2 separate regions of the Homo sapiens genome follow, and region 2 is linked to region 1. The links come from fine-mapping of genetic effects on gene expression. Tissue or cell type: whole blood. Region 1 holds a variant in brackets; the other region holds the start of a gene. All regions are shown on one strand. Distances are from middle to middle.

Evidence for each region. PIP is the estimated chance that this variant, and not a neighbour inherited with it, causes the effect.
Region 2: it holds the start of CFD, and the variant in region 1 is the best candidate, but not a certain one, in a credible set for the expression of CFD in whole blood (INTERVAL, PIP 0.73).

What each region holds. Positions count from the first base shown.
Region 1 is chr19:896,526-900,643 of GRCh38, reverse strand. It overlaps R3HDM4 (R3H domain containing 4), which reads left to right. Exons shown (of 8, transcript NM_138774.4): 5 at 498-583; 6 at 958-1,043; 7 at 1,149-1,204; 8 at 3,104-4,118. The coding sequence ends at 3,207. Among named protein-coding and RNA genes, the nearest start is that of RNU6-9, 5.1 kb to the right of the region's middle. RefSeq lists a silencer at 1,668-1,868. The variant C/T (reference allele first, on the strand shown) is at 2,252.
Region 2 is chr19:857,679-861,765 of GRCh38, reverse strand. It overlaps CFD (complement factor D), which reads right to left and starts at 2,102. Exons shown (of 5, transcript NM_001928.4): 1 at 2,022-2,102; 2 at 993-1,149; 3 at 761-905; 4 at 1-67. The coding sequence starts at 2,076.

The sequences.
Region 1 (4,118 bases):
GGGGCCGCGATGGGGGGCAGGATATGGATGGGGTGTGGGCGGGACCTGGAGTGGGTTGGACCTAGTGTGTGGGTGAGGCCAGGGTATGGATGGGGACAGGGCAATGGGGTGTGTGGGGCCAGGATGGGGTAGGTAGGATATGGATGGGGCGGGACATGGAGTGGATGTGGCCAGCATGTGGGGGCAGGATCTGGATGGCAGTGGGTAGGGGTGGGGCTAGCTGGCTTGTGTGGGCCTGGAGTGGGTGGGGCCTCATGTCTAGCTGGGGTGAACATACAGGTGAGGGTAGGGTCAGCTGGATGGGTTGGGGTCAGGGCCTCGTGGGGGTAGGGTCTGCTGGCTGGATGGGGCCACAGTATCGTTGAAGGTGTGGTTTGGTGGGCAGGAGAGGCCAAGGCACAGATGGGCGTGGTCTTCCCTGGGTGGGCGTGGTCTGGCAGGTGGGCAGGGCCAGGACGAGCACCCCAAGACTGCCCCTTGTTCCCCCACTCCTGCAGAGGACCCCGCCTATACACCCCGCGAGTGCTTCCAGCGCATCAGCCGGCGTCTGCGAGCCGTCCTCAAGCGCAGCCGCATCCCCATGGTGAGTGGGGGATTGCCGGGCCTCCCTTTTCTACCTGCCTGGTCTTTTTTGAAGGCCCGTTTCCCAGGCACAGGTTCTCACCCGGTGCAGGTCGTGTCAGGGGAAACAGGGCAGGATACAGACAGCGGCACCAGGGCCCTGAGTAGGAGGGCGGGGGCAACGAAGGCGGGCACTGCAGGGTGTGTAGGAGTTTCCTCCACGGAAGGCACAGGCAGGAGGTGGCATGGTGGCCTCAGAGACACTTAAGCAGCCTCACGTGGTGGGTCAGAGGTCATGTTTGAGCCCAGCGCTGTGGGCTCCTGGGGGCCCTGGACCTCCCTGGCCCCCCACCCACAGGTCCCGCAGTTCCCTGACCACCGGGCCGCTCTCCCCAGGAAACGCTGGAGACCTGGGAGGAGCGGCTGCTTCGGTTCTTCTCCGTGTCCCCCCAGGCCGTGTACACAGCAATGCTAGACAACAGGTAAGGGGGGGCGGCCAGGCGAGCGGACCCTCCGAGGCTGCGGCCAGGTGGGCGGACACCCCACGCTGCAGCCCCTGCACGGCGCTCACTGCCCGTTCCCCACAGCTTCGAGAGGCTTCTGCTGCACGCTGTCTGCCAGTACATGGACCTCATCTCGGCCAGTAAGTGCCGGTGGCCCCCAAGACCCCAAGTTGGCCAGCTCAACCTGGGAAAGTGGCCAGGGTCCCAGGGGCCTGGTTCCTCAGAGTGGGGCTTGGTGGGGAGGTGGGGAAGGGGGCTGGAGTGGGGACGCTACGAACTCAGGGGTGGCAGTGGGACCCTGCCTTGAATTCACCAGAAGCTCCCTGCATATGCGGCCCCACGCAGGGTGACCGCAGACACAACCAGGCTGCTGGACACAGACACTCCTCCATCTGCATCTTCGGGGCCCGGGGTGGGGGTGATGAAGCCTGGATTTGAGGGACCTCCCAGAGCCAGAGATAAGATGGGGGGACGCAGTGTCTGGAAGGTTTGCATTTAACTCTAAGGCCTCCCACATACCACACGTGGGACCTCAGGCGAGACCCCCTACTGGCCCCTGCGCTCCACTTTTCCAACGGGGCGCAGTCTCAGAACTCACCCCCGTAGTGAACGTCTGTGCAGGCGCCGCCGGCCCCAGGCACCCCATCTGGTCCTGAGCCTCTCACACCTGTCTCTGCCGCCCCGCCTGGAGTTGCCGAGGTGACAGTTTCCATGGCAACCGGACGATGCCTCCCTCTGTTCCCTCTGTGGGAGACGCAGCCCCCATGCCTGCCTCTGCTCAGAACATCCGGCCTTGGCTGGGGGTGCGGGGCTTGGAGCTTGGTGGGTGTGGAGCTGTGGTCCTGACACGGAAGAGGAGGGGTCCCAGCAAGATGGGGAGTAGAGGACGGGGGGGTCCCAGGCAGAGGGGACTGCTGAGGCGCGGAGCTCACATGGGACGTGGCTCTTTTTTTTTGTTTTGGTTGGTTAGGTTTGGTTTTTTTGAGACAGTCTCATTCTGCCACCCAGGCTGGAGTGCAGTGGCGTAATCTTTACTCACTGCAACCTCCACCTCCGGGTTCAAGCGATTCTCCTGCCTCAGCCTCCCGAGTAGCTGGGATCCCAGGTGCCGGCCAGCACGCCCGGCTAATTTTGTATTTTTAGTAGAGACGGGTTTCTTTTTTTTTTTTTTTTTTGAGACCAAGTCT[C/T]GCTCTGTCACCCATGCTGGAGTGCAGTGGCGCGATCTCAGCTCACTGCAAGCTCCACCTCCCGGGTTCACGCCATTCTCCTGCCTCAGCCTCCCGAGTAGCTGGGACTACAGGTGCCCGCCACCACGCCCTGCTAATTTTTTGTATATATATATATATATATTTTTTTTTTTAGTAGAGACAGGGTTTCACTGTGTTAGCCAGGATGGTCTCAACCTGACCTCGTGATCCGCTTGCCTCAGCCTCCCAAAGTGCTGGCATTACAGGCTTAAGCCACCGCGCCCAGCCCTAGAGACAGGGTTTCACCATGTTGGTCAGGCTGGTCTCGACCTCCTGACCTCAGATGATCCTCCTGCCTTGGCCTCCCAGAGTGCTGGGATTACAGGCATGAGCCACTGCGCCTGGCCAGGTCATTCATTTTTCTGCAGTGAGGGGGAGATGGGGAAGGGGAGGCCGGTGGGAGCTGGACCACTCAGGACCTGGGTGCCTCAGAGCCACCTCTGCAGGGCAGGGAGCCTGAGGGGAGGCCGGACACTCCGCCAGGCAGGCGTGTGAGTGGCCATGCGGCCTCAGGCCCAGTGCGTTTCAGGGTCCCCATCCGCACAGTGGAATGAGTGCCAGCGGGGAGTGAGATGGGCCCGAGGAGAGTGCTCCTGTAGGGAGCCTTAGGTATTCTTGTGAGCCAGGCTCCCGGACCTGCGGGCTTAGGGCCAGCCAGGCCGCAGTGACCAGCACACACCAGCTGGCGGTGACCTCCCTGGGAAGAAGCGAGGGTGGTGCAGGTCCGAGGCACCTCTACCTGCCGCGGCTCCCAAATTCCTCCCGTTCTTGCCCCGCTGGTCCCGTCTGCAGGTGCTGACCTGGAGGGGAAGCGGCAGATGAAGGTCAGTAATCGGCACCTGGATTTCCTGCCGCCGGGGCTGCTCCTGTCCGCCTACCTGGAGCAGCACAGCTGATGGCGGCCCCGCGGAGACCCCGCTGCCACCTCGCCCAGCCATCAAGCCCTCCGATACCTTCGGCTAAAATATCTTTCATATTTTTAGAATTTGTCCTCGGAAACCTTTTTCGCTTGGGGTGGTCTCTCTCACTCTGCCCCCTCCTCACGCAGCTCTTGGCAGTCAACAGACGCTGGCGGCTGGGGCTGCCCATGCCATCCCAGCTCCAAGCTTCCCACTCCGGGACTTGTGTTTGGGTGGGGAGACCTGACCTGGGCATGTTCCTGTTTCTTCATCGTTGAGCTTTTCTGGCCCGGTCTGAAGCTCAAGTGAGGAGGGGGAGGCTGGGTTTTTATCACTTTTAATGAATTTGGTGTGATTTGTTGTAGATTTTTAAATTTCCCTTTTGGAGAGAAAAACCAAAAAAACTCGCCCCACTGGTAAAACATGGGTCTTGGTCCCAGCCCCTGCTCAGCCCCTCCCAGTTTTTAGCTTGAATGAGGGTGGGGTCTCTGGGACCCTGCCCCTCATGCCAGAAGCATCTTGTGTTGTATATGTGTGCGCGCGTGTGCCCTGAGACCCAGGACAGAAGCCACGGTCCTAAGAGCCGGTTTTATCCTCGTCATTCTGCGTGTCCTCCCCCACGCCACCTGTGTCGGGGCTCAGGGTCTCCTGCTTTATATGAGCCCCCTTCCTTTCCTCCCCTCCTTTATGCTGGGGGTCCAGGACTTCCAGCCAGAAGCCTCTGCCCTTGCACTACCTTGTCTGTCACCCCATCCCGTGTCCCCTCGTCCCCCAGCCTGACTCCTGCCTGATAGCTCCTGTGTCCCCATGCTGGTCCTCCTGGCCCAGGCTGCAGGAGCCAGGCTGGGGGGCCTCCGCACCCCCTTGCTGCGTGTGGGTAATTGTGTTTTGGGGGAAAGTGGGGAATT
Region 2 (4,087 bases), 39 kb after region 1:
CGTCGCGGTCCACGCGCTGCCAGGGCAGGGGGCGCACAGCAGGGCCCAGTGTGGCCTTCTCCGACAGCTGAGGGTGGAGGCGGACGTCAGGGTTGGGGTGCGGGGGTGCGAGGCTGGGGAGAATGCCGCTAGGCTCGGGGAGACGGGACGGGGGAGGTGGGCATCAGGGCAGGGGCGTGGGTCTCAGTGCAGCAGGAGAGATTTAGGCTAGACCCTGGGTGGGGGTGCAGGTGGGGATGGGGTGGGTGCGAGGCTCACCAGTGCAGCTGCAAAGGTCGAGGCTGGAACCGGGATGGGGATGCAGGGGGAGCGGGGGGTGGGGGGCTCCCAGTGCAGCCGCAGAGGTCGAGGCTAGACCCGGGGTGAGGGTGCGGGGGTTGTAGGGCGGGGTCCCCATGCAGCAGGAGAGGTCGAGGCTGGACCCGGGGTGAGGGTGCAGGGGGTGGGGGGGCTCCGAGCGCAGCAAGAGAGGTCGAGGCTAGACCCGGGGTGAGGGTGTGGGGGTTGTGGGGCGGGGTCCCCATGCAGCAGGAGAGTTCGAGGCTGGACCCGGGGTGAGGGTGCAGAGGGTGGGGGGGCTCCGAGCGCAGCAAGAGAGGTCGAGGCTAGACCCGGGGTGAGGGTGTGGGGGTTGTGGGGCGGGGTCCCCATGCAGCAGGAGAGGTCGAGGCTGGACCCGGGGCGCGGTGTAGGCGGGGTGGAGTGAGGGTGGGCCGGGGATCCCAGCGCCGCAGGAGGGACTGCGCTACACGGGGCCGACCTGTAGCAGCAGGAGGTCGTGGTCGATGGTGTCGGGCTGGCTGTCCGGGTGGGGCACTGCGCGGAGCACGTCGTACAGGCGCTTGGAGGGCTCCGGCTGCGACAGGGAGTGCGCGCCCAGGAGAACCTGCACCTTCCCGTCGGCCCTGGGGACCGGACGGAGTCCGCGGTCGGTGCCAGCCGACTCCCCCCACCGCACCCGGGCTCTTCCCCCGCGCGGCGCGGGCACTCACGCGTCCTCCAGGCAGTGCGCCGCGCTCAGCACCCACTGCTCCGCCACCAGGACGCCGCCGCACAGGTGCGCGCCGTTCAGCTGCACCGACGCCATGTAGGGCCGCGCGTGCGCCTCGGCCTCTCTGCCGCCCAGGATCCGACCACGGGGCGGCGCCGCTGTGGGTGGGCGGGCGCGTGAGGGCCGCGGGGTGGACTCCTCCCCCGGGCGAGGCTGCCTGACGGGATCCCAGCTCTCACCCCCCAGGCCGCTCCCCGCAAGAATCCCATCTCTGGGCGCGGTGGCTCACGCCTGTAATCCCAGCACTTTGTGAAGCCGCGCGGGGGCGGGGGGGGAGGGGGGGGTGCAGATCATGAGGTCAGGAGTTCAAGACCAGCCTGGCCAATATGGTGAAACCCCGTCTCTACTTTAAAAAAAAATACAAAATTTAGTCGGCGTGGCCTATAATCTCAGCTATTCGGAAGGCTGAGGCAGGAGAATCGCTTGAACCCGGGAGTCGGAGTTTGCAGTGAGCCGAGATCGCACCACTGCACTCCAGCCTGGACGACAGAGCGAGACTCCCTATCAAAAAAAAAAAGAAAGAAAAAAAAGAATCCCGTTTCCGTCTTGGGGCCCCTCAGCGTTGCAAACTCAGATACCCTCGGGCGGGAATGCCCCAGAGTACAGAACCCACAGTGGGCTGGGGACCGGGGGCAGATCCCAGCGCCCTACCCTGGGCGCAGTGCCTTCCAGTTGGACATAAGAGAAATGGGGCTGACCCAGCCAGTGCCTGGGCCAGCCCAGTCAGCCACGCAGATGAAGTTTTCCACGCAGACGTTCAGACTCTGTCTGCAAGAAAAGCTGACTCCAGAAAGTTCCGATTTCCAATCTGAATTTTCTAGAATTTTTCAGCGTTCAGAGCCTTCCATTAGTGAGGAGAGACACCCCCTTCCTGCCCACCTGGAGGGGCTGGAGGACCGTCCGTGTGACGGAAGGGAGCACCACGCCCCTACACAGCCCTGTCCCTCACCCCAGGCCCAGGCCTCCTCACCGCAGGCGGCCGCTCCTAGGAGGACCAGAACTGCCAGGCGCTCCCAGCTGTGCATGGTGAAGCCGCTGTGGCTGAGACACTGACCCAGGCAGGGCCCTGGGGGTGCTTTTATGAGGGTGGAGGGGGCGGGCCGCTCCCCGGGTGGGCAGCGGCCCAGCTGGGGAAAGGGGAACTCGCCCGCCCAGCCTCCGCCCTCCCCGGGACTGGGTTACCTCCTGCCAGACTCACACCAGAGTCGACAAGTCGCTGGGAGACCCTCGGGCCTCTGTGAGCCTGACAGCCTGCTGGCCCTGGTGGGGGGCAGTCCCTCAGATGGGCAGGAGGCAGAGAGGGGGGCTGCACCCACCCCGGCCCCAACTTCACCACACCCAGAGTCCCCCAGGGTGTTTCACAATCCTAGCTGGAGGCCACAGCGTGTAAACAACCCACTTTCTTGTCCTGCTACCCTCCCTTCTTTTCCTCCTCTATATTAGAGAGAAGGTCTGTTGGGGGTAGGAAGGTCACTTGACACCTTTGTCTCTGTCCCTGTGGCCTCTGGGGCTTGACACCCTGACGAATAGAAAGTTGGAAAGGCCAAGGCAGAGGCAGCTGGGAAGACTGGCTACAAGGGACAGGAAAACCCAGACAAACTGGGTGGAGCCTGAATCATGAAAGTTATATGGAAAGTTCAGGGATGTCCGCCTTCAGGTGTGGCTTGATCCAGGTGCCTGAACAATGTCCAGTGTCTGCTTCTGGCTTCTCCTTTCTTCTCTGATGGCTTCTTTCCTCACCAGCCTCCCCTGGTGTGTTTCCAGGGACCCCACACTCAACCCAGTGGCTCAGTGGGCCCCTCCTAAAATTCTTCCTCACTCCAGCCAAGTCTCAAGGGTGCCTTGGGTTGGTGGAGCCTGGATCACACGCCCCCTCCCAAACTGTTCACTGAGGGCAGGTTCTGATGAACAGAGTCAGGGCTGGCCGGGCACAGTGGCTCCCACCTACCATCCCGGCACATTGAGAGACCCAGATAGGAGCATCTCTTGAGCCCAGGAATTCAAGGCCAGCTTGGGGAAGACGGCGAGACCCCATCTCTACAAAAAAATTAAAATAAAATACTTCTCAGAATCTGGGCCATAGGGCCTTTTGTGAGGTGGGGATTTGTGTGTGTTGTTTTTGTTTTATTACAGACAGGGTCTTGCTCTTTCATCCAGGCTCGAGTGCAGCGGTGCAATCATAGCTCACTGCAGCCTCCTCGACCTCCGGGGCTCAAGTGATCCTCCCACCTCAGCCTCCAGAAGTGCTGGGACTGCAGGCCTGCTCATGGTGTAGCTCCATTTTTCACATCTGCCCCACAGGGGCCAGCGGGATTCACGTTGCATTAATCCATGGTGCGGGGACCAGAAGGATGGGGATACCTTGTGGGGAGGACCTCAGACATTGTCCCCAGGGGGAGCAGCACACGAGGTTCCCCCGGCTTTTCTCTTCACCATGGATCATTTCTTTCTTTTCTTTCCTTTTTTTTTTTTTTTTTGAGACGGAGTCTCGCTCTGTCGCCCAGGCTGGAGTGCAGTGGCGCGATCTCAGCTCACTGCAAGCTCCGCCTCCCGGGTTCACACCATTCTCCTGCCTCAGCCTCCGGAGTAGCTGGGACTACAGGCGTCCGCCACCACGCCCGGATAATTTTTTGTATTTTTAGTAGAGATGGGTTTCACCGTGTTAGCCAGGATGGTCTCGATCTCCCGACCTCGTGATCCGCCTGCCTCGGCCTCCCAAAGTGCTGAGATTACAGGTGTGAGCCACCACGCCTAGCCTCATTTCCTTCCTTCCTTTCTCTGTTTTTCTCTTTCTTTCCCTTTCTTTTTCTTTCTTTCTTTCTCTTTCCTTCTTTTTTTCTTTCTTTCTTGCTTTTTTTTTTTTTTTGCGACAGAGTCTTGCTCTGTCGTCCAGGCTGGAGTGCAGTGGCACAATCTCGGCTCACTGCGACCTCCACCTCCCGGGTTCAAGCGATTCTACTGCCTCAGCTTCCCGAGTAGCTGGGATTACACGCATGAGCAACCACACTGGGCTAACTTTTTGTATTTTTAGTAGAG